4 separate regions of the Homo sapiens genome follow, and regions 2, 3 and 4 are each reported to be linked to region 1. The links are microRNA targets in miRTarBase. Many come from high-throughput screens and were not tested one by one. Region 1 holds a microRNA gene; each other region holds the end of a gene's coding sequence.
The links. Region 1 holds the annotated microRNA hsa-miR-5193 (UCCUCCUCUACCUCAUCCCAGU, at 5,365-5,386, opposite strand). A microRNA usually pairs through its seed, bases 2 to 8, with sites in the 3' UTR of a target mRNA and lowers its output. Matches are read on the target gene's strand: a 7mer-m8 pairs with bases 2 to 8, a 7mer-A1 pairs with bases 2 to 7 and ends in A, and an 8mer does both.

Region 2: the mRNA of TMCC2 is a reported target of hsa-miR-5193. Seed matches in the 3' UTR shown: 7mer-A1 at 5,062-5,068, 7mer-m8 at 4,957-4,963 and 7mer-m8 at 4,388-4,394.
Region 3: miRTarBase lists WDR70 as a target of hsa-miR-5193. The part of its 3' UTR that is shown has no 7-base or 8-base seed match.
Region 4: the mRNA of CTIF is a reported target of hsa-miR-5193. Seed matches in the 3' UTR shown: 7mer-m8 at 5,567-5,573, 7mer-A1 at 3,645-3,651, 7mer-m8 at 3,643-3,649 and 7mer-m8 at 3,587-3,593.

Annotation. Positions count from the first base shown.
Region 1 is chr3:49,800,801-49,809,108 of GRCh38, forward strand. MIR5193 (microRNA 5193) reads right to left here and starts at 5,445; the gene lies at 5,337-5,445. It overlaps INKA1 (inka box actin regulator 1), which reads left to right and starts at 2,461. Exons shown (of 2, transcript NM_203370.2): 1 at 2,461-2,643; 2 at 3,381-4,230. The coding sequence starts at 2,593. The coding sequence ends at 4,187. It overlaps UBA7 (ubiquitin like modifier activating enzyme 7), which reads right to left. Exons shown (of 24, transcript NM_003335.3): 18 at 8,176-8,308; 19 at 7,586-7,668; 20 at 7,220-7,312; 21 at 6,936-7,127; 22 at 5,273-5,365; 23 at 5,097-5,197; 24 at 4,409-4,637. The coding sequence ends at 4,508. It also overlaps a transcript of CDHR4 not described here. RefSeq lists silencers at 1,858-1,907, 2,298-2,737 and enhancers at 5,416-5,710, 5,697-5,976, 6,606-7,502, 6,707-6,876, 6,977-7,026 and 1 more.
Region 2 is chr1:205,269,227-205,277,534 of GRCh38, reverse strand. TMCC2 (transmembrane and coiled-coil domain family 2) reads right to left here. Exons shown (of 5, transcript NM_014858.4): 3 at 7,651-8,308; 4 at 6,280-6,415; 5 at 4,192-5,722. The coding sequence ends at 5,411. Among named protein-coding and RNA genes, the nearest start is that of TMCC2-AS1, 36 kb to the right of the region's middle. RefSeq lists enhancers at 1,043-1,702, 2,311-2,893, 2,894-3,475, 5,678-5,822, 7,526-8,046, a silencer at 3,720-4,014 and a cis regulatory region at 5,750.
Region 3 is chr5:37,752,166-37,756,165 of GRCh38, forward strand. WDR70 (WD repeat domain 70) reads left to right here. Exons shown (of 18, transcript NM_018034.4): 18 at 321-1,270. The coding sequence ends at 408. Among named protein-coding and RNA genes, the nearest start is that of GDNF-AS1, 86 kb to the right of the region's middle.
Region 4 is chr18:48,856,933-48,865,240 of GRCh38, reverse strand. CTIF (cap binding complex dependent translation initiation factor) reads right to left here. Exons shown (of 12, transcript NM_014772.3): 11 at 7,600-7,653; 12 at 2,024-5,897. The coding sequence ends at 5,682. Among named protein-coding and RNA genes, the nearest start is that of CTIF-AS1, 19 kb to the right of the region's middle. RefSeq lists enhancers at 2,322-2,873, 7,034-7,535.

The DNA.
Region 1 (8,308 bases):
TATGGGAGGCTGAGGCAGGAGGATCGTTTGAGATCAGGAGTTCGAGACCAGCCTGGACAACATGGTGAAACCCTGTCTCTACAAAAAAAAAAAAAAAAAAAATTAGCTGAGTGTGGTGGCACATGCCTGTAGTCCCAGTTACTTGAGAGGCTGAGATAGGAGGGTCACTTGAGCCCCAGAGATGGAGGCTGCAGTGAGCCAAGATCATGCCACTGCACTCCAGCCTGGGTGACAGAGTGAGGCCCTGTCTCAAAAAAAAAAACAAAAACGGTTGTCTTTATTTGCCATCTCCAGTTCTTCAGTCCTCACTCTCTTCTCCACACACTCTAATCAGGCTTGTCCCTCTCTACACAAAACTGCCCTTGTCAGGGTTCCCAGTGACCTATGCACTGCCGAATCCAGTGGTTTGTTCTTCACCCTCACTGCCTAGGCAGCATTCAATGCTTGCTCCCCTTGGGTCCTGAGTCCCCACATTCTCAGATTTCTCCTGGCTGTTCCTGCTCAGCTTCTTTGATAGCTCTGCTTCATATCTCCCCTACCTCCACCTCATGGAATGTCCCAGGGCACAGTCCCGATTGCTGTCTCCCTCTGACTACACTGATTTCCTCCCACCCCACCTTATCCAGGCCTATGGCCTTACATACCATCCATTCACTCACTATGCCTCCCAGATCCAAGGCTCCAGTGCTGATCTCTCTCCTGAAGTCCAGAGTCATACACCTAGCAGCTGACTCTGCAACTCCTCTTGGATGTCTAACAGGCATCTCAAGGGTTACGTGTCCATAAATGATCATTGGATTTTCCTCTCCAAACCCACTCTTCTCCAGTCTTTCCCAGATCAGTTTATGGCAATTTCATCCAACCAGCTGTTAATGCCAGAAATGTAGGAGTCATGCTTGATGCCTCTTTTCCTGCCCACATCCATGCATCAGCAAGACTTGATTTTAGTTCCAAAACATACCCCAAAGTGACCCCCTTCAGTGCACCTGCCCTGCCCAGGCCTAGGCCCTCCCCTTCGTTGCCTGGATGAGGGCAGGGACTTCCACTCTTATTGCAGAATCCTTTTCTGAAAGCAGCTGGGATTATCTAAACAAGGGCTAGCCCAGGTCATTCCTGCTCAAAGGCCCCCATTGCTCCTCATCACACCAAGAACAAAACCCACATTCTGCTCTAAGGCCGTTAGAGCCTGGTTTTGCTGACCTTTTCCCTCCTGCCACCACCACCAATCACAGACACCTGGGCCTTCTTTATGTTTGGCCCTGTCCAGCTCCTGTCCGTCGGGGTCTCTTCCCTGGCTGCTCCTTCTGCCTAGAATGTTCTTCTTCTCCTTCTTCTCCTTCTCCTTCTTCTCCTTCTCCTCCTCCTGCTTCTTCTTCCTTTCTTTTTTTTTTGAGACGGAGTCTCACTCTGTCGCCCAGGCTGGAGTGCAGTGGCGCGATCTCCGCTCACTGCAAGCTCCGCCTCCCGGGTTCACGCCATTCTCCTGCCTCAGCCTCAGGAGTAGCTGGGACTACAGGCGCCCGCCACCACGCCCGGCTAATTTTTTTTGTATTTTTAGTAGAGACGGGGTTTCACCATGTTAGCCAGGATGGTCTCGATCTCCTGACCTCGTGATCCGCCCGCCTCGGCCTCCCAAACTGCTGGGATTACAGGCGTGAGCCACCGCGCCCGGCCAGAATGCCCCTCTTCTTGATTGCATCTTGATGTCACCTCCTGTGAGACTGACTTTCCCCAAGCTAGCCCACGGCCCTCATTCCCTGGTATTTTCCTGTTGCTGGTATGTCCAGTCTGTCTGCAGCTACACTACCCTTGAGCCTAGCCTGTGTTGATAGAGCAGCCTCAGCACCGACCCTCAGTCTGCACCTGGTACCGGCAAAGGGAATGCCGACGGTCGCGCGTCGCCGCTGGACTCGCGACTAGCCAAGCACTCCCCACTAGAGGGCAGTCCCGTCTAGCTCGGTTGGGACGCGGCTGAGGCCCCGCCGGTGCGCTGCCACAAAGTCCCGCCCTCTCTTGAGTCCTCAGACGGGCTGAACCCCACTTCCATCCCGTTCAGGGAGTGCCAAGGCCAGCCTCACGAATGGGTCCCGTGGGTCAGGCCCCGAGGGTCCACAACCTCTCTGGGTCCGACCATCCGGGGTGCTCTGCCTATGTGCGGACGCAGCACGGCGCCCCGTGAGAGGGACCGCTATTTCACCATTGAACAAACGGGGAGGATGAGGCCCCCGCACGGAGGCGACCTGTCCTGCGTCACGCAGCAAACGCAGGGTCCACTCAACAGTCTGGGGGCTCGGGGGGTCCCCGTACCGGCCCCGTCCGGCTTCCAGTTATGACCCCGCCCTTCCCACCCAGAACCGCGGCGGAGTCGGGAGGGACGCCGGGCTTTAGCCCCGCCCCCTTTGGCCGCGGGGCCGGGGCGGGGCGCGGCTGCCAGATGTCGGGGCGGCGGCGGCGGGAGCTACGGAGAGCGAGGAGTCGCGCAGGCAGGCGGAGGCTGAGGGCGCCGCTGGCCGGCCCTCCCAGCCCTCTCCGCGCGGCTCCGCCGGGGTTCCAAGAGGAGCTAGTAGGTTCGGTGGGGGCCCTGGCATGGACATGCACAGCGCTCGGCTTGACAGCTTCCTTAGCCAGCTCCGCTGGGAACTGGTGAGGCTCGGGAGCGGGTGTGGTTAGTGAGGACGCGTGCGGGATGCCAGGCTGCCGCCCGGCCGGAACAACAGACGGGTGCGGGGTGGCTCCAGCGTGCCGGTCCGAGGCGGGGTGGGGGCGGCGTGGCGCATATGGCTCAGATGGCCCGCGTCGGGTTTCGGACGGTTGGGAACTGAGCTGAGCATCAGATAACAGCATCCAGCTGGCCGTGCTGCTGGAACGGCGCGGGAGGAGAGAGTGGAAGGGGGACTTCTTTGGGGGCGGGGCATGGGGCGGCAAGGGACTAACGAGGTGCTGGCGCTGCTGTGAACGCCCCCTACTTCAGGCTGGCCTATGCCTCCCTTCTCTACCCCTCACCTAGCAAGCGCTCTTTCTGTGAAAGACGCTTTGGGCTTTGGGAGCTGAATCCCCCAATAGGCACGGGATGCCCCTCCAGTCCTGGGCAGGACCTACTTCCCCGTTCAGGCCCGCAACCCTGCCTGCCTGCCCGCCCGCCCTGGTGGCGGGTGCCGACTTGCCCGGCCCTGCATGCTGCAGCCTGCCAGACTGCCACCAGGTCGGTGGATGAGAACCACACCAGCTTCGAGTGCCAGCACCCCTATGCCTGCCCTGTGCTCACTAACACCCTGCTGCCCAGGCCAGCAGGCCTATCTAACCTTCCTGGACCCTCTGTTCTCTGGGCTGGCCTGGTGACAAGTGATACCTCTCCGACTTCTGCCCTCTCTTCCCCTCAGTTGTGTGGTCGGGACACAGGCTCACCCTCAATGCCTGGTCCCCTGCAGCCAACCTCCCAAACTGGCCCAGATGTGCAGCCCAGCCACCAGCTTAGGGCCTCGGGTGCCTTGGAAGAGGACTCAGTCTGCTGTGTGGAGGAGGAGGAAGAGGAGGAGGAGGAAGCAGTGGTGACAGAAGACAGGGATGCAGCCTTGGGAGGCCCCAGGGAGCATGCCCTGGACTGGGACTCTGGCTTCTCGGAGGTGTCAGGCAGCACATGGCGAGAGGAAGAACTGCCTGTATCCCAGCGCCCAGCACCCTCAGCACAGCCCCTTCGTAGGCAGTGCCTCTCAGTCAGTGGCCTCCCCATGCCCAGCAGGGCCCCTGTAGCCAGTGTACCACCTGTCCACCATCCACGGCCCAAGTCCACCCCAGACGCCTGCCTGGAGCACTGGCAGGGACTGGAAGCAGAGGACTGGACAGCAGCCCTACTGAACAGGGGTCGCAGTCGCCAGCCCCTGGTACTAGGGGACAATTGCTTTGCTGACTTGGTGCACAACTGGATGGAGCTGCCTGAGACAGGGAGTGAAGGGGGTGACGGAGGTGGGCACCGTGCCCGTGCTCGGCCCCCTCAGTTCCTGCTTGGCCTCTCTGAGCAGCTTCGGCGCCGGCTGGCCAGGGCTCGGCGGACAGCTATGGCAGGAAAGCGGCTGTCATGCCCACCTCGCCCAGAACCTGAACTGCCTGCGGATGTCTCACGCTTTGCAGCTCTCATGAGCTGTCGTAGCCGCCAGCCCATCATCTGCAATGATGTCAGCTACCTCTGACCCTGCCCTCCAGCCTGGGACAATAAAAGCCTTTTTTCTAGACTGTCCTGGCTCCATACCCCTGAGGCACTAAGAGGCAGCCCCAGCCCTGTGAGGCACTGCCCAGGGAGACAAATCTTCTGAAGAGCTTTTTTTCTCTGTGTGAAGGTCCCTGTCATGCCCATGTCACACCCGTGTGCATTAGTGCACTGTTTTCTATCGTCCATCCTCTCTGCAATGCCTTCCTTTAACAAGCATTTATTGAGTGCCTACTGTGGGCTTACAATGCAGGGCTTGGGATCCGGGGCTCCATTGAGCTAGGTGACAGGGTGGCTGCCTTGTCACAGCTCATAGTGCAGAGGTGGGAAGGCAGTGTCCTCGTCGTCACCCTCACAGCTCAGCTCTAGCACCAACACCCGCTGCCCAGGAGCAGGTGCCTGGCCTGTCAGCTGCTGAACCAGTTCTGTCACCCTGGTAGGGGTGGGTTTAGGGGAGATTGGAGAGGTGAGCCATGGCAAGCAGAAGGCAGCCTGGCATGGACTAGAGAGGGTGCTGGCAGGCCGTCAGGAGCCCAAGCCAGGAGCAGGAGCTGCTCAAGACAGGAAACATCTGAAACTATTTTAGGAGCAGCTGATGAGGCAAGCAGGAGGCAGGAAGCTATGGGTCCCTTGGGAGTGGGCTGTGAAAGGGGGGCTGTGCAGCATGTGGGGAGCCCATGGGGCTGGCCAAATAGGCAGCTCCTGAAGACTCCTCCTCAGGCTCTCGGCCCTCACCCCACCTCCAGCCTGTTTGCTGGCTCCATTTGGGGAAAGAATGCTTGGGAAGGTGTGAGGGGCCCAGAATGGGGCTGGGAAGACAAAAGGCAGTGTGGTCCCTAGCCCCAGCCTCCAGGGACTGGTGGGGCCTGTCTAAAGCCCCAAGTGGGCTCACCTGAGGGGCAGGTGCTGGGCCTGCTTTTCAGGTGACCATCCGGCCGCATAGAGCAGGGCTGAGCCGTGCAGCAGGATCCTCACCCTCAACCCGTGCTGCTCCTAGAGGAGAAAGGTCAGACACCAGCTGGGCCGGGCTGGGCTGAGCCTGGGGGTTGGGGTAGCAACAGGGCACACCTGAAGATGAGCCAGCAGCGACTCCAGGGTCCTCTCAGGCTGCCCAGCTGGTACCTTCAGACGGTCCCAAGAGGTCCACTTCAGGTGATGGAACTGGGATGAGGTAGAGGAGGAGTCAGAGACTTCTTACCTCCCCCCAACCCCCATCCCAGTTACCAGCAGCCTTTCCTAGGGGAAGAGCTGGACTAGCAGGAAACAGGAGCCAGGGGGTGGGGGGTGGGGGGGAGGTGGGATCTGGGCCCAGAGTCTCAGCCCCCTCCCCGTCCAGGCCGGGGCCAGCACAGGAAATGGGGCTATGGGGCCCGCACAGGGAAACAGACGATCCATCACATGGGCCAGTTGTGAGAGTGGGGGATGAGGGGGTGGTGCTTCCTGAGGAAACCCAGAGCAGGGCCCCTGCAGCCTCTGATAAAGCTGCTTGTTCCTCAAAGACAAGGCTGGGAGCTGGGGGGCACATCCTGTCCCCCAATCTTGTATGTACTGCCAGTGCCTTGGGCTACTCATTGGGACACAGGGGCAAAGGGCACAGTGACCACCAGGGCCCCACTGTCCCAGAGACCCCAGCAGGGATACAATGCATAGAGGCTTCCTCCTCCTGTCCCTTCCTTCCTTCCAAGAGTCTTGGGGTTCTGGGACCTAGAGCTAAGGACAGAAGGATGGCTGGCAGGTATCTAGAGACCAGGACAGGGGGTGCTTATCAGCCCCTGAGAAAACACACTGGGGTCAAGCTGAGACTAGGCTAGAGGTGAGATGGGGGCTTCTCCTTCACCTGCTTCACTCTGTGGACAAAGGCAGCCTGTATGCTGGTTAGAGGCAGGGTGCCTCACAAAGGGGCTCTGTGTGCTAGTCCAGAGGGACCCCAGGCTGCTCAGCAGAAACCCAGTGCTGGCCCATGACCTCTGCCCTCTCCCCTCATGAGGGCATTCCTTCTACCCTCATCCTTGCCCCAAGGAAATGCCAACTGCAGAGCCTGGGCACAAGGCTGGAGGCATTCACAGCGCTGCAGTCACAGGAACACAAATGCCCACAAGCCCAGGAACACACACATGTGTGCCCACATGCATCTCCATGCATGCCCACATTGAGGACACAGGAAGATGGGAGCCCTGCACTCCCATCTGATGCACAGATGTGCAAACTTGCTCCTTCCATACCCACACTCCGGGGATGCCCAGACCCCAGTTGCACTCACAACTGTGACACAAATACACTCAGGGCTGCAGACCCCACACCTCTAGTGGCAAGCCTATTACCTTTTAACTCAGCTTGTAGGAGGTAGGCCAGGGCCCCCGTACCATGCAGGGGGAAGCTAGACTCTTTCTGGGGCTGATGCCCTGGTCCCCTCCCCACTACCTACCCCTCAGGGGTACTCCAAGGAAGGAGGGGACTGTGGGGGATGTCTGGCTCCACTAATGAGTTAAAGCTGCAGCTCCCCCAGATCCTGGGCTTTGGAGGATTGGGGGTGGGGATGGCTGACGGCTGCTTCCTGTGTCTGACAGGTCCCAGCCTGGCTTCATAGCAGGAAGAGGGCTGGAGGGAGTCTTCAGGACTTCTGCACAGTCTGAGTTTCAGTGAGAGCCGGCAGCTAGATTGGGGCCTGTATGGGCAGGTGCAGGGGAAACCCAGGCCTAGTAGGGCTAAGGGTGGGGTATCATGGGCTCACCGTCTGGATGGCTGGGGCAAAAGGCATATAGCGGATGAGGTAGTTTTCAGCCAGATGTAGGTAGCTGTGGCGAAAGGCACTACGAGGCCGTGGCCCACTCACCACCTTATACAGCTCCAGGCCCAACAGGCCTGCCACAGCTGCTGTAGTGGTGGCAATGGCTGGGATAATCTGGCCCACAATTCGCTTGCTCTGCCAAGGACAAGAGATTTGGTCTGGGCCCAAGGCGTAGGGCCAGGGTTTGCCCTCCACCTCCAGGCCCAAGCCTCAAGGGGTGGGGTTACCTGGGCACGGTTGACCGGTGGAATCCCGTAGTTCTGACATCTCAGGCTAGCTGCCGCTACCACAAAGTCCACATGGAAGTTGCTGTCATCATCCTGTAAGGCCCAAGTCAAAGTAGTGTTAACACTGCAGCTGTGCCCCTCACCGTGGCCCACTGCGTGTCACTGCACAAGTCTCCACACAGTTCTGTCGGGGGGTTGCCCCACATCTCCTCTTGATCAGACAGGCTGAGGTTCAGGGAATGTGAGCTGCTTCCAGGGTCTTGCTGGGAGAATTCAGGCCAAGGGGCTCCAAAACTACCTTATTAGCTCCTGACCTTTCTCCACAAACTCCCCAGCCCCACTCCTCACTGCCACTTGGGCACCCACCTTCTCAAACATCAGAGGCTTCAGGGGAGGGCCCACACTCCAGACTTCCAGGGCTTTGTTCAGTTCCTTCTGCTGCTCAGGGCCTGTCAGGGGAGGGGATGTTGAGGCAGTCCTTAGCCCCTGTCTCCTGCACTCTTCTTGGAGCCCTGTGCCTATTCTTGGTCTTTGCCAAGCCTGTCACTTACTATTCCCTGATCAAATCAAGAAGCCCCCTTAATTAATGCTACAATCTCCCCTCTAGAAGCCCCAGTCTTCACCCATGTGTGCTCATGACCTCTGTGACCCTGTCCTCACCTGCAGGCCATAGCTAGACACTCCCCAGGAACCAATGGACTTTATTTATTTACTTATTTATTTTGCCAAGAATCTGCCACAAGAACTGGGATGTGGGGTAGGCAGCAGGGAGAAGACCTACTGAGGGACCAGAGGATAAGCCTGAAACTATGGAGGAGTGAGGTTAGGAGGCCTGAGAGGTAGCAAATTGGCTGTAGATCCCCTAGGCCCTATCTTCCTTCTGCAGCACAGGCTGAGGACAGGACAGGTTCAGGCCTTTGAAAGACAGCATGAGGGGCCAGGGCCAGGAGCCTCACCAAACTCAGCAGAAGCCGAAGCCAGCTCTAGATTACTAGCAAAGATGGGGGCCATCTGTTGGGGGTCAGGCTGTGGCAGCAGCTTCAGCAGCTCCCTGAGTGCAGTCCAGTCCTGTGAGCCAGGCAGCCCATG
Region 2 (8,308 bases), not on the chromosome of region 1:
AGTATTACAGGCATGGTGGCGCATGCCTGTAATCCCAGCTACTTGGGAGGCTGAGGCAGGAGAATCACTTGAACCTGGGAGGCGGAGGTTACGGTGAGCCAAGATCATTCCATTTCACTCCAGCTTGGGCAACAAGAGCAAAACTCCGTCTCAAAAAAACAAAACAAACAAACAAACAAAAAACAAATTAGCTGGGCATGGTAGCACACACCTGTAGTCCCAGCTGCTCAGGAGGCTGAGGCAGGAGAATAGCTTGAACCCAGGAGGTGGAGGTTGCAGTGAGCCAAGATCGTGCCACTGCCCTCCAGCTTGGGCGACAGAGCAAGACTTTGTCTCAAAAAAAAAAAAAAAAAATCAAAGTAAGGCAACAAGAGAGGGATAAAAGACTACAAATAGGGTACAGTGCACACTGCTTGGGTGATGGGTGCACCAAAATCTCACAAATCCCCACTAAAGAACTTACTCATGTAACCAAACACCACCTGTTCCCCAATAACCTATGGAAAAAAAATTATAACAACTACTTAATGCCAGATACATGCTGAGAAAATTAAACTGAAATAATTTGTTTCACTTAAAAACAAAACAAAACAAAAAAACACAGTAAGGGCAACAAGAGAACCTTCAGCTGAGGCTGGCAGGGCGCCGAGACTGGGCACCCAGACCTCTCAGGATCACCTCTGGGGCTTTTGGAATCAGAGCCAGCTTAGTGGATGGCTGCCTGGAGGCAGGCGCATGGCTGAGGTGGCACCGCTGGGCCCAGGATGCTTCATCCGGACAGTCGAGCCTTGGGGTATGGGGGGACCAAGGCGGGAGTGCTCTCCTGGGAGGCCCTGTGTCTGGCGGGCATCGCTGCTGTCACCACCCCGACTGCTCTTCTGGCTGAGTGACTCAGGACCTGCCAGCAGGCCCAAATGTGCTGGGACAAGTCTCAGCCTCCCCTCCTTCCCCACATGCCTCCCCGCAGCCTAGTGGGGACCAAGCTTCCTCCTTCCATCTGCATCTGGAGTTTGGCTGCAAGCCGTCAGGCCCATGGGTCACTGCTGGCTGCTTTCCCAAGCCCTGCCCAGCCCTGTCCCTGGGCAGATCAAAGCCCTCCCTGGGGGCCCCAGATGGCTGGCAGCATTCTAACAGGTCATTCCCCTAGAGTGAGATCCTGGGGTGTCATGGGGCAGGCACTCATAGCTGACACCTACGAGCCTCACCGGTGTCCTAACAGTTGGGCAGCACGGATATGATTATCCCCATGTTTCAGCTGGGGAAACTGAGGCCCACAACCTCCACAGTCTCAACTCAAAAGCAGGCATCTTGATTCCTGCTCTCCTTCCTAGACCCCACACCCAGGACCATGGGCTGGAGGCGGGAGGGACCCACAGACTGATACACTTGTGGAGCTGGGGTGTTGGCAGCCATCTTGGGTCAAATAGGCTGAATCCAGTCCTCTCTCAAGCTGGGGCTTGGCCTCTTGGGACTGGACCAGCTTTGTCTACCAGACCGAGGGGAGAGGCTGCTGGGAATAAGCAGGCTCTGGGTTCCCAGGGAAGAGGAACCCTAAGGACCTCTATTAGGTTTTCCAGAATCAGAGGCTGAGGCTCACTTAGCCACCCTTGGCCTTGTATGTTCCTGTGGGGTCGGCCTTAGACTTCCCTGAAGAGTTCTTCTGCATCTTAATATCTTACAGGCTCAGGAAAGAGGAGCAGTAATAAGTCCAGTCTCGGGTTAATCCATCATATTCTAGGCCTTGTGCTTAAGTCTTGACCTGCAGAATGTCAAGTCTCCTGCACCCAAGCCTGTGAGCCAGTGCCATGTCATCTCCATTCCTCCTGGAAGATGAGGAGATTGGGCTGAGAGCAGCTGGAACCCTGTCCAAGGTGAGTGGCAGCACTGGGGTTTGAGCCTAGGTCTGCTGGCTCCTTAATATTGGGATCCAGACTTGACTTAAGGGCCCTGGCTTTGAAAGGGAAATTGAACCTGCCATGAAGATCCCTCCAGGTGCCCAGGCTGCAGCTCCCCTCCTCTCCCACCCTGTGGCCCCAAGTCTTTCCTCCTCCCTTCCCTCCCTCCATAGCTCAGAACCACTCCAGAGTAACCTGTGCTGGCAGGGGTTAAGTCACCTCCTGCTGGCCTGTGCTGTCTGCCTGCTTTGCTGTTTGCCAGGGCTGCACCTGTTGTAGCCCTACAGTTTTGATGAGGTTGGCAGGGAGTGCCAGCTCTGCACGGGCATGGTAAACATGCCACCTGCCTGCTCAGTGCTGCTGGAGCAGTAACGTGCCAACTTCAACATGAATTCTTAGCTACTCCCTCTGTAGTGGACCCAGGCTGAGGGGAGCATACCAGCCTGGCTGAGACCTCCGGACCCTCAGGTGAGGGGCTGGGACCTGCATGACAGATGCTCTGGGAAGGACCTGCCTGTTGGCCCTGCATTCTGAAGAACGGTCCCCAGCAAAGGAGGCCAGGTTGAAGTGGGGGCAATGCACTCCCTTTTTTCCTTCTTTTTTTTTGTTTTTTTATTTGAGACAGAGTTTCACTCTTGTCGCCCAGGCTGGAGTGCAATGGCACACTCTTGGCTCACTGCAACCTCCGCCTCCCAGGTTCAAGTGATTCTCCTGCCTCAGCATCCCAAGTAGCTGGGATTATAGGCATGTGCCACCACGCCCGGCTAATTTTGTATTTTAAGTAGAGATGGGGTTTCACCATGTTGGTCAGGCTGGTCTCGAACTTCTGACCTCCGGTGATCCACCCACCTTGGCCTCCCAAAGTGTTGGGATTACAGGCGTAAGCCATCATGCCGGGCCGCACCCCCTTTTTTCTAAAGGGCGAGAAGGCTCAAACACAAACAAGGAAGCATCAGTGACCATCAGAGTCCCAGACAGGCAGGGCTTTATTAGACACGTTGTCATGATAAGGCAAACACAGGCTGGTGTTCTGTCCTTTTTGCAGATGACCCTGTGTAGCTGGGGCTGGTCTTCCCCCACCTCCTCTGTTCGCTGTCAGTCTCAGGATCAGCTGAGCATGGCCGCCACCCTCCCTCCCTTTTTCCTCCTCCCTTTCAGTGTGGGCTGTTGTTGGCAGTGACATTTAATTCAGGGAAGGCACCTGACCTTGGGGAGGAATGTGGGAAATGTCTGCAGCCTGGGGCAGCCACCCCCCACCTGGGGCCCAGGAATGTGGGCTCTAGGACACCTGTGGCCCCCAAGGGAGGTGAGTGTAGGGTCCAGGAATGACACTGTTGGAAGGCCCCGGCAAGGTCACCTAGTGAAACTCTTACATTGTGCAGAGGGTGAGGATGAGCCACCAATGCCACCCCCCGTGGCACCAGCACAGCCTTCTCTCCAATCTGGTGACAGCACTGTCTCTGACTCTTGTTGTCTCCTCAAGCCTGAGGCCACAAGTACAGCGGCAACTTCTGATTTGTCAGACCCACAGAACTGCAGAATGTCCAAGCCCTTCGAAGTGAGCTGCTGCACATCCTCTACCGCTGATGTGGAGACTGAGGTGCAGAGAGATGTGAGTTGGCTGCCATCTACTCACTATGGGCCAGGACCCAGGTCTCTGGGGTGGGTGCATTTCCCACCATCCCTCCTGTTCCAGATGCTGGAAGTCAGCATCTTTTCATCCCAGCAGGGAGATTCAGGTGGCCTCTCCTAAACCCCCACAGGGTTACTGCTGGGAGTGCAGTGCCATCTAGGGTGCCCATCTGTGTGAACTGCCGGGAGTGGGTGCTGCAGCCACAGAGGGCCTGGTCACTACACTCAAGCCCATGCTCCAGCACCTGGAGAGCAGGTGCTCTGTGCTCTGGCTGACGGCTCTGAGAAAACCAAGCTAACTCCAGCAGCTGCCTTCTTTGGGGCTGCACCGGGAGAAAGTGTTAGCGTAAGGACTCTGCTGCCCTCTCGTGGCCTCACTTGGGTATGGCTGCTGCCATTCAGGCCGCTGGTGGCTCACCTGCTCCGAGCTATGGAAATCTCTCTCCTAATTGCCTTTGCCTGGACTCTAAGAGGCCTGGATGGGGTGGATATCATCCCTTCTATCATACCGCTTAGGCCATGCCTTGTTCCTTGTCGGATTCTGGAGGAAGAGGGCCTCAGGTCAACAGGAGAGGCCTAGCCTGTGTTACCCAGAATGCTTGGGTGTGGGGAGAGACGTGGTGGTTCCCACAGACACAACCTAATCAACCAACACCAGACAGGATGGTTTGAAAATTTAGAGGATATTTATTTCTCAGGAAGGTGCACAACAGCTGGCAGGCACTGCTTTCCCTGCTCTAGGGGATTCCTCTCTCCTTTTCCAAGAAATCCCCTCTCTTCTTAGAAGTGCCCATGGGAGGCTGGGATGTGAAAAGAAACCATACACAACACTCCAGAGCCTTAAAAAAATAAAGCAACAACCTCCTCCACACGAATACACTTACAAAATAAATAGACGGATAAAAGAGAGGCCACGTGCCTCCCATCCCGGCTGTAGGGCTGCTTGGGGATAGTGGGGCTGGGTGGCTCGGTCCCACTTCTCCCAGCCAGGATGATCCAAAGGCTAAATGGAATGGAAGGGCCCTGGCTTCAGAGAGAGGATGGGGCAGGACCTCTCCTGGTACTCAGCAGGGAAGACACTGGGGGCACGGGTAGGGAACAAAGGAACAAATAAATAAATAAATAGAACCCAACAGCACTCTCAGAGGCCTAAGGGCTTAGGGTGAGGCTCAGGGGGGCCCTGGGGCCTGTTTCCCTGAAAATAACAGATCCAGTACAGGCAGAAAGAACAGAAGGGAAAACACAGGCCACACCCACCTGGCCTGCAGAGCCCAGCCCCAGAAGGAGGCCTCAAATCAGCTCTACAGGGAGGAGGGGTGGGGTGGGGATGCTGAGCTCCACACTAGCTGCTCTGAGCCTGCTCTCTGGCCCTGGAGGTGCCCGAAGGCTAGGGACCCTCCCATCCCTGTGTTCTCTGCGGCCAGCAGAGCCTCCTCCCTCACTCTCCAGCCTTCATCCTCACCATCTCCACCAGAGAAAACCGTAGCTATCTCCGAGGTGGGCTCTTTCCTAGGAAAGTTGAGGCAGAGCCCTCTCCTCCTATTCTTAATGGTCTTCCTGACTTGGGGCATCCTGAGGGTCAGCTGGGAGAAGTCCTTGTGTAACTATAAATAATCAAAACAATCCAACCCCATGTCCACCTCTGCTCCACTTGGCCACAGGTGCCCGCACTATCTCCAGGTAGGGCTGCATTCTAAGCTCCCTTCAGGCCAACAGGGAGAAGGTGTCAGACAGAAGCAAGTACAGAGAAGGGGGCAGGAGCTGCTGGAATGGACAGTTTGGGCAGGAGGCCAAACTGGACACACAAAGAAGTCCAAGGGTCCCTCCTGGAGAAGTGTGGCCAGCTGGGGGCCAGAGAGCACAGGGTTGGTGTGGCTGGCCACTCAGCTGGGCAGCAACACGTGCTCCAGGAGGTAGGTGAGGGAGTCCCAGTGCTTCCAGAGGAGGAACAGGACGAGGACCAGGAGGGTGGTGCTGGTGATGCGCAGGCGTGTCTTCATGAGGGGCGTGATGAAGTTGGCGATGGTGGACACGAACACCAGCAGCACGGCCATGAGCGCCAGGATCACGTTGATGAACTTGCCCAGCAGCGCCCGCGCGTTGGCATTCTCCACGCCCTCCAGCTGTACCACCTGCTGCTGTTGCTGCTGCAGCTCCAGCTTGGTGACCCGGGTCAGGCAGGACTCCACGGCCTCCTGCAGGGGCAGAGGGGCTGGCATGTGTGCGCTCAGGATGGGCAGGACCCCTAGGCTGAAAACCTACCTACCCCACTGAGAAGGTGCCTATAACGAAGTCTCCTCTCCAAAGGCCAGGAGGAGTGGAGGTTGACCAGCTGCAACTGGGGTCAGAGACCTTTAAGGATGACTCTTTGGGGAGGATGCTAGGAAATGAGAGTCTTGATTACTAGGGAAGGAAAAGAGCTGGCCCAATCCCAGCTGGCTCCCTCTTGAGGCAGGCTGGAGCCTGGAAACTCCAAATACTCATTTGCGAAGCTGCCATCAAAGAGGTGGGGGGCATGGTGGCCTCTGCCCTGTGGGCTTGCCTCTGCACAGTGCACGCTGTCAGCCTCAGGCCTGTCTTGCTCACTCCACTCCGCTCCCGCTACGCTGCCCTCTTCATCCATGTGCCTATCGGCCCCGGCCAACAGGCCAGCCTGTGTCTATCATGCCCCACGTGACAAGAACCCTAACCCTCTGGCTGCTGCCAGCTCTACCAGCACATCTGGGGCCTCCCAAGGTTGCCCTGGCCATACCTGGATGTCCCGTGCCCTCTCATAGGACTGGTAGGCCACCTTCTCCTCCATGCTGGCCAGCTCCTGCTTCAGGTTCGTCATCTCGTTCTGATGAAGCTCAGTCAGGTCGTTGAGCTGCTCCTCCAGCCGCTCGTACCTGGCGGAGGGAGAGAGAGTGACACCAGTCCTGGCTCCCCGAGCTTCCACTCTCTCCCACAGTTGATTCATTCATTCTCTCAATAAACAATGACTCAGCCCATCCCCCGTGTCCAGCTCTGCTCTGTTCTAATTTTAACAGCAACAACAATAGAAGCTACTATTTACACAGCACTTCTTAGGTGTAGGCACTGTGCTAAGCATTTTACCTACATGACCTCATAGGATCCTCCCCACAATCCCATGAGATAGGTGCCAGTGTCATCTCCATTTTACAGAGGAGAAGACTGAGGCGTGGAGGCTGAGGAGCCTGCCTAGGATCACGCAGCTCATGAATGGAGGAGTTAAGGATTGGCTGACTTCAACCTGGGCTCTTAAGCCCTAGGCTCAGATGCTCTCTGGGTACCAGGGACACATGGGTGTAGAGGACACAATCCCGGCTCTGAAGGCACAAAATAGCGTAAGATGACTGTTATGTGAGGAGTGGTTAGCTTTTAGGTGGGGCTCCCCTTCAATTTTCCAAGCCTTCTTTATATATATGGAGAAGAAAAAGAGAAAGTGCTAGCTAAGGAAAAGATCCCCCCACAAGCCCAGGGAGCGAGCGGCAAGTGCTGCAGAGGCACAGAGCCAAGGGCAGAAAAGGGCAGCACAGGACCGGAGGGAGACACAGAAGGAGAGGCCGAGAGATGTCAGCTCTGTTCCAGGCTGGCCCCAGGAGCTCCGACTGGAGGTTCATGTTTTGGAAGCTATACATCCATTCACATGCTTCGACTTTACAGGTCTGGACTCATTGTATCTTTATGACCCTATGAAGAAGGAATTAATGTCATCCCTGAATTGAGGTCAGGAGATCGAGACCAGCCTGGCCAACATGGTGAAACGCTGTCGCTACTAAAAATACAAAAAATTAGCGGGGTGTAGTGGTGCGTGCCTGTAATCCCAGCTACTCAGGAGGCCGAGGCAGGAGAATCGCTTGAACCCAGGAGGCAGAGGTTACAGTGAGCTGAGATCGTGCCACTGCACTCCAGCCTGGGCGACAGAGAGACACTCCGCCTCCAAAAAATACAGAAGGAAAAAAGAAAGAAGGCTCCTTAGGGCCTCGTGCTGGCTCCTTCCAGCAGCCAGGAGGCTGAGGATGCTCCTCTGACTGCCTCCACACCCTGGGTCTGAAACCCAGTGCTCCTTGCCTCATCCCACGTCCGGCTGGGCTGCAGGAGGGGGTGGGCAGGCACCTACCTGTAGCGCTCCTCCTGCAGGCACTGGGTCATGTAGGTGTAGTCCCTCTGCAGCTGAGTCTTCAGGTCTTCCATGGAGTCCTCCAGGTGAGACTGTCCCTCCTTGATCTCCCGTAGCTCTTCCAGCAGAGCATCCAGGTTTCCAGGAGCACCATACAGTGCATTGGACTTAGGGCTCCCCAGCGCCCCACCAGGCCCAGCCCCAGAGTTGCTGCCTGCCCCGGCTGAGCTGGCGCTGGCGCTGGAGCACTCATCATCGCTGCCATACTTGGGGCTGGAGACGAGTGTGGCACTGCCGCTCAGTGCCCGGGCTGCCTCCTCAGGGGGCCCATCTTCCAGGGGGTCCTTCAGGTGGGCGATGTTGTCAGCACTGCCAAACTTGTTGCGGATGAGGCTGGCAAACTCCCGGGGCTTGGACACCACGGCGGTGTGGGTGGCCTGTGAGAGGCCAGAGAGGCTGCCCTTGACGCCCTCCACCACGCCGCCCCCAAAGCCGCTGATGCCTGCGCGCACGTTGGCGCCCACGTCCTTCAGCCCCTGCTGCATGTCCCGCAGCACGTCCTTGGGCTGCCGCGAGGGCCCGTTCTGCTCAATCTCCTTCAGGCGCCGGCGGTAGTGCTCCAGCTTCTTGTGCAGCTGGGCGATGGTCTGGGCTGACT
Region 3 (4,000 bases), not on the chromosome of region 1:
CAGAGTTTCAGGTGGAGGGTGGTTAGGATGGGTGAAGTTCCACTGAATTTGATGCATTTTCATTTTATTTAAGGAAAGAACAGTGTGTATGTACAGTCTGCCACAGAGGGTAAATCTTTAAAAGAATCTTTTGCTCTTTTCCTGAACATAATTAAATTTCCATTATCTTTTTCTTTGCCAGAAGTTTAATGATTTATATTTAATAATTGAGTTGTAATTTATTCCCCACATTTGCTCCCACTTGATGAAGGAAGCAAAATCTAATGTAACAAATACTTTCTGACTAAATTTTTCCTTCTCTTCTTTAACTTTTCTTTTAGGACTCAGCCCAAAACCATGTTTGCCCAAGTTGAATCTGATGATGAGGAAGCAAAGAATGAGCCAGAATGGAAAAAACGTAAAATTTGAAGAATCTCATTTGAGAGCTGTTTGCATGAGTGGGAGGGGTATGGGACAGGTTTGGGTTTTTTTTTTATGCTCATGAAATTAAAAATTCATTTTTATGAACAGGTTTTGTCCTTTGCATTATTGAACTGGTCAAAAGTTTGGTGGCTAGGCTTCACTAAAATTGTGCTTAAATTTTCTTACCTGCAACTATTAAACTGATTACAGATAAACAAGAAACAGATTCTTAGTCTATTACCAAGTACTTTAGGTATTTGGAAACTTTATTCAACAATTATTGGTCTTGTCCAGATTCTCATAACCTTAGAGAGGAAAATGTACATTAAGATGTGCATCTGTCTCTAGCAATTCTAGGAACATAATATAGAAATAGAGATCAAAAAGTTTAATGTTTCTGTATAATTTCACAACAGTTGTTTACATGACTGTAATTAATTAGGCTGAGTTCAAACCAAATACATTGCCATACTGGGAAAGAGCATTATCTCATTATCCTTCAATAGCAGAATACAGTGGTTAAGAGTTAGGAGTGGGCTTTGAAGTCAGACTCATGTGGATTCAAGTCCTGGCTTTGCTCTTTACTTCTGGGTCATCTTAAGAGAGTTATTTAACTTTTCTTTTCTAGCCTCAGATGATGAAATAGTACGTACTTTGCAGGTTCGTCAGAAGAATTAAATGGGACATGCCTCACAGAGCATTTAGTACAGTACCTGGAACACAGTAAATGTATACCAAATATTTGCTATTTTAAAATAGGGCTAATATTTACTTTGCTTGGTTTTTATCAGTATTAAATTAGAAAGGTATAGAATTGCTTTGTAAATGTAAAGACTAAACAGAAGACATTAAAAATTATTCTAAAAAATCATTGTGCTTTAGTGACTAAAAAACTAAAACAAAAGTTGGCAGTTTGTCCAAAATAATAATGCATCAATAGAATAAATTCTGTGCATTGGTTTCACACAGACATGGGGTAGTTTTTGCATGTTAAATAGTCCCCTCTAGACAGGTTTTTTAGGACTTGCCTTCTCCCCTCCTGCTCTCATTTGTTCTAGTGATTTCAATAATTATAAAAATGCATGATGATCCCAAAAGTATATCAGAAAACTCCTGGTTTTACAGGCTTCACGTACCCACACCTGCTTCCCAAAAAATATTTTTAAAGAATCACTTGTACTCACACAGCTCCCTTGTCTCTACAGATTCTGAGGTGGCAGTGGGCATTCTTTTATAGATAAATCCTTAAAACTTCATTCTCATACACTTTCTCAGTCCTTCCTTCCTACCCCCATCCTCATCCTATTCCCCTTCTCTTGTGACTCAGACTATAGGTAATAGGTAAAAAGAAAAGAACTAACATTTGCTGAGTGTCTGCTACATAATGAGTACTATCCCAAGCCCTTTACTTGTGTTAGCTGATTTAATCCTCACAAAAACCCTATGAGTAGGTAAAATTGCTAAACCCATTTTCCAGATGAGGCAAAAGAGATTCAACATGTCAAATCATATGTCTGAGGTCACAGCCAGAGAGGGCTGCATGACAGCACCCAAGATCTCTAAACATCAGTAATTAACAAATAGCCCCAAGTTTTCTGTTCCTTTTGAAAAACACTTCATTCAGAATCAATTACAGACCAATATTTTGTTCCAGCTGCTTAGAATGTATAAATTTATTACTTCTTGAATAAAATTTACTGAAAGCATCTCACATTTTCCCCCATCTTAACATAAACATTGCACCATATGGAAGTATTCGTCTTGTACAGCCAAAAGTTGCAGTGGAGGGTTGGAGGAGGAATAAAAACTTGATCATAGTGGTCTTGGCGGAGTCAGCTATGATGTAAGGGAAGAGAAAGGCAAATTTCGCACGAAGATGATTTTCTCATCGTTACCCACAACACAAGTGGGCCTTTTCATATTTAAGAGGATCTGTCTCACTGTAGAGAGTTTTATAAAGAATTATTTTTTCCACAGAAGATTGGCAACATGCACATACGGATTTCAATTTCAAATTTGGTAAGGGAGGAGTTTAGAACCAGGAATGGACAAATAGTGTGTGTTCATTTGACCTGCAGTCCTGTCACCAGAGTGGGCATCAACAGTTATTTATCTTACAGTCCCTCACACTCCCCATGTCCCTCAGGCCTCGTTATCTTCCCCCATGCAACCTTGTATTTGGTCGCCTTCATTTCTAGTTGCTCGAAGGAACTGGCAGTCATCCTAATGACTCCTCCCTCACCCCCCACTCCCACCCATTTAATTATTTGCCAGTTTCTTCCCATGCTGTCTTCTGAATCTCTCATATTTGCCCTTCCTCTCTTTCCCTACCACCCCTCTAGAATTTAGACCCTCTTTTAGCCTTCACCAGCACCACTCAGGAGCCTCCTGCCCAAATGATCTTCCTGTTTTTCATTAGGTCCTCATCTAACCCATCTTTCATTCTGTCATCAGAGTTGGCCTTCTAAAGTCAAAATCTGTCATTTCATTCTTTTGCCTAGAGCCTTCCAGAAGCTCTATGTCAGTACTCATGCGTTTATGTGGCAATTGAGGACATCCAGGATTCGGCCTTTCCCTGTGTTTCATGCTGTAACTCCTGCTGATCTGGCACATGCTTCTGAGGCTCAGCCACTACTATGTTCTTTGGCACCTGAATGGCTTTGCACATGTTGTCCCCTCTTCCACCCTTGTCTGCTTGGAAAATTCCTATTTGATTTTGGAAACAGGAATCAATTTCACCTTCCCAGGCAGACAGTCTCCGCTTCGATAGTTGCTTACATATCTCTCAATTATAGCCTCCTTTTATGTTGCGTTATGATTGTATACACATGAATGGCTTGTGGGCCAGTGGTGTGTGCCCATGTGTGTACATGCATGTTTCCTCACTAGGGTGTAGATTGTAAAAACTAAAGAGCATTGGGTTCAGTAAATATTCAGTAAGTTTGTTTAATAAATTAGAGGAGCCATGTTCTATTCACATTTGTATTCCTAGACCCTAGCCCTGAGAAAGGGTTTAAAAAGAGGCGTATTCAATCTTTGGCAGAGGGAGGGAATGAAACAGGCAAGGATGAAGAATGGATGGGAAAAGAATGAGGTGTGAGAAGTGCTTCTGCCTCGCAGATGGAAAGGAGGATCGTTAGTACTGAAGGTTGGTCTGCATCCAGGCTGCTTTACCTCTTCTCTGTGGGGATTTATTCACAGCTAACTGTGATGGCTCAAGGAGGAGGCAGGATTATCTGTGCTATTCCTGGCAGGGCACAGCAAGTTCTAAGCCACCATGACATCCTCAGGTACTTGCCTCCTGTCCTGTTGGACTTGATACTGGGAAGGTCATGTGACCCTGACTTACCAAAGATCTGAGAGATGTCTAGCATGGGGATTCTTAACCTAGGCGGGATGTCTGTGAACTCCCTCAAATTTTATGCAGCATGCTTTGCTTATACTCGTACATTTTTCTGTGGAGAGAATCCATAAATTAGACTCAATTCGAGGATACTGGGTACAGCTAGTAATTCCTTCATCTCCCAGGATAACTGTCTAAAATTGGGCCATTCATACTTGAAAACCAGGACATAACTCTCACACATTCACACACACA
Region 4 (8,308 bases), not on the chromosome of region 1:
TCTGCCCACTCCACTGAAATCTCCTGATCTGAGGTATTTCATCATGGTCCTAGTTTCCACCAATGAAGCGGGAAGCCCACGTGGCCTGCCCGCAGCCTGCCGAGTCCCGGGGGCAGCTGGCTGCTCCTTTTGTCTGGCTGGTGTGACTGGCTGGCTCCCTGGGGCGCTGCAGGGATGAGGAGTCTGAAGGACCCACTCACTTTCTGGGCTCACCCTCGCCTTGGCTCTTCTGGTGATCAGCCTTTGGCGCATCTATAAAATGGGAATCGAAAACACTCACCTGCCTACTTCACGGGACCAGCTGAGACCGTGTAAGGAAGCCGCTGCGGAACTGCAGGAATGAGGGAGATCAGTAAGGCAGGACCACTTCTTTCCCATTTCAACTGCTCAACCCTTTATTTTTCTGCTATCATCATCTTTGCCTTGGTCCTTAAAAGGCCCTTATAAGTTACGCTGTGAGCATCCCAGTACAAATGTAAACAAACACTCTAAAATGACAAGAGAATGCCTACAAGCAGAAAGATGGTGGTGAAATCAGGATTGAAACATGTATTATTTCGATGCTGTGTCTCGTAGTATTCAGTAACTTAGGGCCTTCTGGAAGCAGGACTAGCCCATCCAGGAAAATCTCCTTTCTCTTTTGCAGGGTGTGATAAGGCTCTCTGTTCCTCATCGTCGCCCTACCTTTGATCTTGACCTCCAATGTCTGCTTCTACTGCTTTGCATTTTTATAAAAATAAATTTGGGCCTGGCACGGTGGCTCACGCCTGTAATCCCAACACCCTGGGAGGCCGAGGTGGGTGGATCACTTGAGGTCAGGAGTTTGAGACTAGCCTGGCCAACATGGCGAAAACTTGTCTCTACTAAAAATACAAAAATTAGGACTGGAAGCGGTGGTTCATGCCTGTAATCCCAGCACTTTCGGAGGCCAAGGCAGGCAGATTGCCTGAGCTCAGGAGTTCAAGACCGGCCTGGGCAACATGGTGAAACCCCACCTCTACTAAAATACAAAAAAAATTAGCCAGGCGTGGTGGTGTGTGCCTGTAATCCCAGCTACTTGGGAGGCTGAGGCAGGAAAATTGCTTGAACCTGGGAAGCAGAGGTTGCAATGAGCTGAGATCGTGCCATTGCACTCCAGGCTGAGTGACAGAGCGAGAGTCCATCATCATCTCAAAAAAAAAAAAAAAAAAAAAAAAAAAAAAATTGGCCCGCCACATACCTCAGTTGTTTAATTAAAATGTTCTCTCTCTCTACCCAGTCTGTGGACTTCTGGCTGTCCCTGTCAGTGTCATGGTGGGTGTGTGACTCAGTGAAGGGCAAGGCCCGAATCTCAACATGCCTTCACCCGGCTCCTGGGAGGCCCTGGCCGCCATTGTAGCCAGGCCAGGGAAGGAGGAAGGGAGTTGGTGCTCTGGTGCGACCCCTGCAAGGAGCTGAAGGACCAGCAAGTTCTAGCCAGAAAGAATCCCCAAGGAAAGGGGAGCGTTACCAGGAAACAGTGTCCCCAGTGCCTTGCCATAGACAAGATTGTGCAAAACAAGAGACATGTCATCACAGGAAAAGAAATCACTGGGCCCTTTGGGGACTCGTTGATGAAAGACTCATTTGACCAACTGGGACTGGACAGCCACTCGCTGTTGACTTTTGAAAGCCACTGGGCCCAAATCTCAGCCCTCTTGAAATGACTCATTGCCAAATGCCACAGTGACATTTCCAGGGAAGGGGTAGGTTTGGGGGGGGTTGGTTAAACCAAACCTTTAGTGCAAAAGCCATTTTGTCCAGGACTGGCTTGATCCTGGACAGGTCCAGGTCACTTTGGATAGGTCATAGTTAGTTCCCAGTTTTGGGGGATGTAAGTAAGTCTCCTTCACCCATGGTCTCCTGGACCAACTTCTTGCAAGAATCTTCCCCTCAGCTCATCTCCTGGGCCAGCTCCTGGAGGCCCTGCTAGTATAGCTGAGGCACATGAGCTTGGGGAAAAGGTTTCTTTTGCTGAACACACAAAGAGCACAGACTCTGGGCATTTTGTTTTTGGTGGTGGTGTTTATTTTTTTAAACCCACTTGTAGTTTGGGTTCAGCTGGAAAGCAGGACATACCGACGGAGGGAGGGTGGTCGCACTAGCGGGGTTCCGCGGCAGCTTTGGCGGGAAGCCCCAGGCCCTTGCTCTGGGGAGGTAGGTCCTGTCGTCCACTCCCAGCCGGCTCAGGGAGGCGGCCAGCCCTTCCGTGTGAGTGTTCCGCGCAGAGGAAAGTTGTCTTTCTTTCTTCTGATCTGTGTCCTCAAAGGCCCAGCCAATGGTTTCCCAACACAGTGCCCTGCAGCTGAGGGACACGACTCCCCAGGCAGGCCTGAGAGTCTGTCTGTCTGACAAGGAACACGGGCCGGTGTCTGATGCCAGAAAACAGACTGGGACTTGGCTTCTTGGAGGCCCGCGTCTGGGGCACCCCATGGGGCTGCTCTGGTGGCGGCCTGGCTGTCTGGGCCCCCGCCCCTACAGCTGCCCCGGCCTGATCTGTGGTACCCTTCCCACACCCCCCACCCTCATCCCTCGGAGAAAATAATAGAATAAAATAAAAATCAATCAGAATAAATACCGACTCGGCCAACATTTACATTTACATGGATGGACAGGACGATCCCCAAACAGTGAAGGTTTACAGACTGGTCAAGGAAGGACGAACAGAGAGAATGGGGTCTGAGGGTGCACATCCCGTGGAGGGTGGCGGGGCTCCTGGCCTCGTCTGGGTGAGGTTGGGGGCCTCGCTGGGGCTGCGGTCCCAGAGCTTCGGCAAAGCCACCAGGCCTTGGGGAGCAGGGCTGTGGCAAGCAGGCCGCCTCGGAGAAAAACAATGACTAACTCATCCTGACAGGCAGTGGGGAGACTGAGACAGGATCAACATCAGATGGCTGGACCGCCTCTTCCATGCGCCAAGAACCGCGGGCGAGGGGAAAGCAATGCAAGCCTTAGAAATGCAATATCCAGCTCTGCCTCTCATCACATACATTCAGAGGTCAACTCGGACGCGGCCTTCCTCATGCCACAGAGAGGGGATGGACTTGGGGAGGGGGCCAGGGTCTGTGGGGCATCCACTTCTGTCCTGCAGTTCCTGTCTGAGCAGTCTCCCTCGGGAAGCTGCCTCGGGGTCTCAAATTTTAGGCTTGACTGTTGTTTCTTTAAAAAAAAAATAGTCTTAACGTTTTCCTTCCATATCTGAAAAAGGAGCAGCAACCTGCATTTAGAAAAACAGCTTAAAGTGTTGTTGTTCAGATTGGCTAGGAAGCGCTTTCAAGCAGTGGAATAAACTAGGCAAACAGTATGTCTGGAGCCACCGTGACACGACATGTAATTAAAAATATATTTATATATGTATACATATTTATATTTCACTTCTTCTTCACACTCTGGTCCTAACAGCCAATGGGGAGCTGCCCCTGTGGCCAGGCCATCAAGGAGCCCGTTCGGAGGAAGGAGAATCAGGCCCCAAGGTGCCCACAACACAGCCCCCTCCACACAGTGTTTCGGAGCGTCCTGCGTGAAGCTTGCTCTGAGCTCACCGTTGGGTCTGGGAGACCCCACTCCCCTGCCTCCTCCCTGACCTGAGCTCCCACTCCCAGGTCTCTCCTCTCTTCGGGGGCCTTGCCTCCTCCTAGCGGACAAACCCCACATGCTTCAGGGGGGCAGGGGCCACTGAAGCACAGGTGGAGGCTGCCTGGCCACGATGGCAAGCTCGCCCTGGGGCCTGCCCTGAGCAGCCCCGCATCAGCCCGGCTCCTCCCTCGAGGCCTCCTACCCGCGGGGCATCTGTGTTCCCAGGCTGGGCTGGGGAGGAAGGGCAGTGAGGAGGAGCTTGAGAAAGTCTGGGAAGAAACCGTGGAGGGAGGAAGAAGGCAGGGTTCAGGGCCAGGGACCAGAGGTGGCGTGCGCTTCTTGGGAGAGACCACTGACCTGTTTCAGGTAAACTTGTGCCCCCTACACCTTGTCGCCAACAGGCTCTTTTTAGAGACAGGCAAAGGCTCCACACCTGGGACCAGAGGGCAGGTTGCAGCTGCAGGGAAAGCTGGAGAGAACTGGGGAAGCCTCTCCCCACTCGCCACTCTCAGACTCAGAATCAATCAATCACGAGAACCTTCCCCGCCCATCACCTCCCGGCCAGTCCAGTGTGGACCAAGAGGGGCCTCCAAAGTGACCCAGGGCCTGCCCGGCCTCAATAAAAGAGCAAATAAGGAAGCGGCTAGGCTCTGACATCATTTCCGGGGGGGCTCATCAAAGTGTGTGCTCCAGCCCCCAGAGATGGAGCTATGTGGACACCTGTTCCACCCCACACCTTCCTCTCCAGCCAACAACAGGGCCTGCTCCCCAGGACCAGGGCCTGCCAAGAAACCCCGTCTTGTTTCCCGGCTGGGAAGCTTCATCTGGCGACCCCGCTGGTCACCTGACTGTCCCTTCCATGACCCAGTGAATTCACCCCTTTCCCAAGAGCTCACGGAGGGCTGGGCTTCTACGTCCGAGCTGGGGCAGTGACACAGCGCATTAGCTAAAATCGAGTCCTGGGGAGCCCCCACTCCCATCCTTTTCCCCAGTAAGACCTGCGTGTGGAGCGCAAGACACCATCTAGAATTTTGGTTTTAATTTGCCAGTCTCGTTCTGTGCCCTGTTTGCCACAAGGCCCCTGGGGCCAGGACCAGGTTTAACTTGGTCCCAGTGGTGACAGTATCAGCCCTTTGAGAAAACAGAGGCGCTGGAAGCCAGTGGCGAGGAACACAGGATTCCAGCGGGGACCCCCCGCCGGGGCAGAAGTTTCCAATTACCCTAATTGGCTACTGGCAAGCTGTCTGTGGCTCGAATCCTTCTTCTAGAGGGGAGCTGGGTTTGATCTCCCACTAATCCGGGGGTCCTCAACAGTGCTGACTGTGTGATCACATCACGGGCATTTTCATTGGCCAAAGAGACTTCAAAGCAACCGACTTTTGAAAAATAAAACACAATAAACAAAAGAGTGCAAGTGGAACTGCAAACTCCATCTCCCCCGCTGCGCCTGACCCCCTAGGCCTGAGGCTGTGGGGGCTGCAGTGAGGAGGACTTGGAGGTGGGAGGTGGAGCGTCAGCTCTGCCATGGCTGACAAAGGCCGTCAATTACGGGCGGCTGGTGGGGACCGTGCCTGCCTTTGTCCTCCCGGACATCTGCTACACGTCGCCTGCTGCCAGTTGGCGACTGCGGCTGACAGCATGCGGGAACAATGCGAGCCCGTCTCCGACCCACTTTTTCAGCCTTCCGAGGTCCTTTCTGACCCAAGCGGTGCCCCGGCGTGCGAGGCTGCCAAGGTCTCCGAGGAGTCACAGCGATGAGATCCCTCACACAAAGCTCCGTGGGGGATGGGTCTGATGGGGAGGGGAGAGGCGGGAGTGAGGAAGGGGAGGGCCAGGGCCACCAGGAAAAAGAAACATGCTTCCCTTATTGGTGTGAGCTTGCATGCTCGGGCTGGGGGGCTTGTGCGGGGGCACTCCTCTCAGGGATTTGCTCCCTTCCCCGTCTGGCTCCAGACTGGCCACCGACTCTGCCTGCCCTCCTCCCCATTTCTTTCTCCCGCCAGGGCCACCCCTGTCCTCCCGCCTGTCCATCTGGCCCTGTGCACCAGGGCCCCAGCTGCCCGTGGGCCGCCTGCCAGGCCCCCTGGCTGTCAGGCTGTCAGTTTCTGGATGGTTCTGTTGTAGTACTGCGTGATGGGGGGCGTCAGAGGGTTCCAGCTGTTAGCGTGGAGCTCGATGACCTCTAGGAGCAGCGACCGGGTCAGCATGGACTCCGAGGGGCACAGCATCTTGTCCCGTGCGCTGGCCAGGAGCTCTGTCATCATCTCAGGCAGCTGTTCCTCCAGCAGCCGGCCTGTACTCTGCAGCTGCAGACAGAGATGTGGGGTTAGGATGGCCTCGGGTCCCACAGTGGCCCACTGGCCACCCTGATTAGGTGGGCAGGGATAGGAAATAGCTGGGTTGTCTTAAGGACACACAGGCCCAGACCCCTGTGCCACAGCTGGAATGAGGACAGGGAGAGTGGAAGGTGGAGTAGCCAAGAGTGAGAGCTCACATTTACCAACCAATCTGCCAGCAGGATCCAGAGGGATCCGAATATTGCCTACTGCCCAGGGCTGAAAGAGCTGTCACCAGGAACATGCCTCTTGTCCCTTTTACCCAAGAGCCTCCCTCTTCCAGGAAGCCTTCCCTGACTACATCCGCACCCTCAAATGGCTCCATGATCTGTGCCCCTTGGTGATCAGGGGGCCCTGTGGTCATTTTCACTTGCTGGGGCGTCTCTCTGGCAATGAGCTTAGTCATTATTACATGTGTCCATTGGAACTTGAGAGCAGGGGTGATGCCTCCTGTTTCTCTCGCTCTCCTTTTCTCCTGATCCTGATCCCATCTCCCAGCCCCCAGAAGTGACCTCTGCTCATGCTTGTGACAGGAAGTGGGGGAGAGAAATACAAACTGGGGAAGAAGGCCAGCCAGAGGCCGTCAGGAGAGCCCTAGATAATCTTGAAAAGCCCACTGGGAAGGAGCCCCTATTCCTGGACCAGCACACCCCTGGCCAGTGCCCCCCAGGCCCTCTCTATAGAATCTCAGTCCCCGTCTCGGTCCCCAGCCTTGTCCCATTCATTTTTCTAGTCTCTGCCTTCTTCACAAAGCCTCCCTTGAACCCCTGAGCCCTTCCTGACCTCTCTCCCCTGACTCTTCAGGGATGTCTCTGTACTTACACTTATTCTATCTACTCTCTGAGAGCTATTCCTAACCAGACTGGAAGCTGCCTGAGGGCAAGGACCAGGCTTTCTCCTTCTCCCTAATTCCCCCCTAATCCCAAGCCCCCTGTAGGGTGCCCAGCTGGAGGCCAACAAACAAACTGAGTCCCACAGACCCAAGACTGCCATCTGGCTCCCAGTGCTTCTGGCCTCTGAGCTCCTCAGTGAGGCCTTTGCAGCCAGGCGGAAGCCACCTGAGTATGCTTATGACAGCTGCCAGGCCCAGGTCCTCGTCTGGAAGCCCCTCTCCTGCCTGCATCCCACTCTGAGTGACTCTGGACCATCTGCAGAGGGCAGAGATCTGCCCAGGGACTGGGCCAAAGCCAGGCGCTAAAGGGAGAGCCCAGAGGAAGAGTCTCCATTAGCAGGGGCCACAGCTTAGGGACAGGAGTGGCACCTCCCAAGAGGTGTGCTTTCGGGTGGGCTGTGCCAGCACTGCATTGCCAAGCATTAGCAAAGCAAAGGGAAATATTTGAGGGCAGAGGTAATCAGGAACTTCTTAAGTCATTTGTGTGGCATGCCTGAGCTGGGGCGCAGGGGGTCTTTGGGGGACAGGGAAGTAGGCAATGCCACTGGGAATCACTTCTCTCTCCCTTCAGTCAGGGGTGAGCTGCTCTCACCATCAGTGTTCACTCTGGCTTGGGGTGGATAATTCTGGATGCAGAAGTCCATGCCCACTCCTGAAGCCATCCACCTACCTTCCCCTGGACTTGTAAATGCCTCCAACAACCCTCGTGCCCCTAGAACTGTTAAGGCATGAGAGATGCACCGGCTTTGAGGTTGGGGATGTCGAAGCCCCAAAGCTTACCTCCATAGAGCAGCAAAGGACAGCATCTTCCTTCACATCCTGAGATTGCAAGAGCTGTGGAAGAGAGGGGCAGAGAGCACCACTGAAGGAGACATGCCGGCTACTGGGCCCTGTAGCTCCCTGCAGCCCCCGCCGACCTGCAGCCCCAGCCCTGATGCGGCCTGTAACAAACATCTCCAAGGTTCAGGCTAGAGTGAGAGCCCACAAAAGTCAGAGAGCAGAAAGTCAGTTGCGCCGGGTGGCCGTGATTTCTCCGACAGGGTTAGAGCAGCTGGAGGTCAGTGTGATGGTGCGATGTGGAGCCCCTGGGCCAGGTCTGAACACCGTGATTCAAGAGGCCACTGAAGAGAAAGCCTGCAGCAGTGAGTGCGCTGGGATCATCCAGTGTTAACAACTGGTCAGCAGAAGTCCTCAGGGAAATGAAATTAGCTTAGAGACGTATAATTGGTAACTCCTCTATGGGTGAGGAGGTTCAGCCATTGACTCAGGCACCCCTGGGCCCTGGCCACAGGAGGAAGTCCAGGAGTCAAAGCCCTCTTCTCCACTGGCCCAGTGCTGTAGACTTTCAAACCCACAAACCTGTGGACTTACTCAGGGGCTGGAACTGTTTCCTAACTAGGGCCATGGCTGGGCTGCTCAGCGCTCAGTCCTGCCGTGCTACAGTCCATGCTTCCCCCGACTTGCCTGGCTCATTCTCTCAATCTCTCTG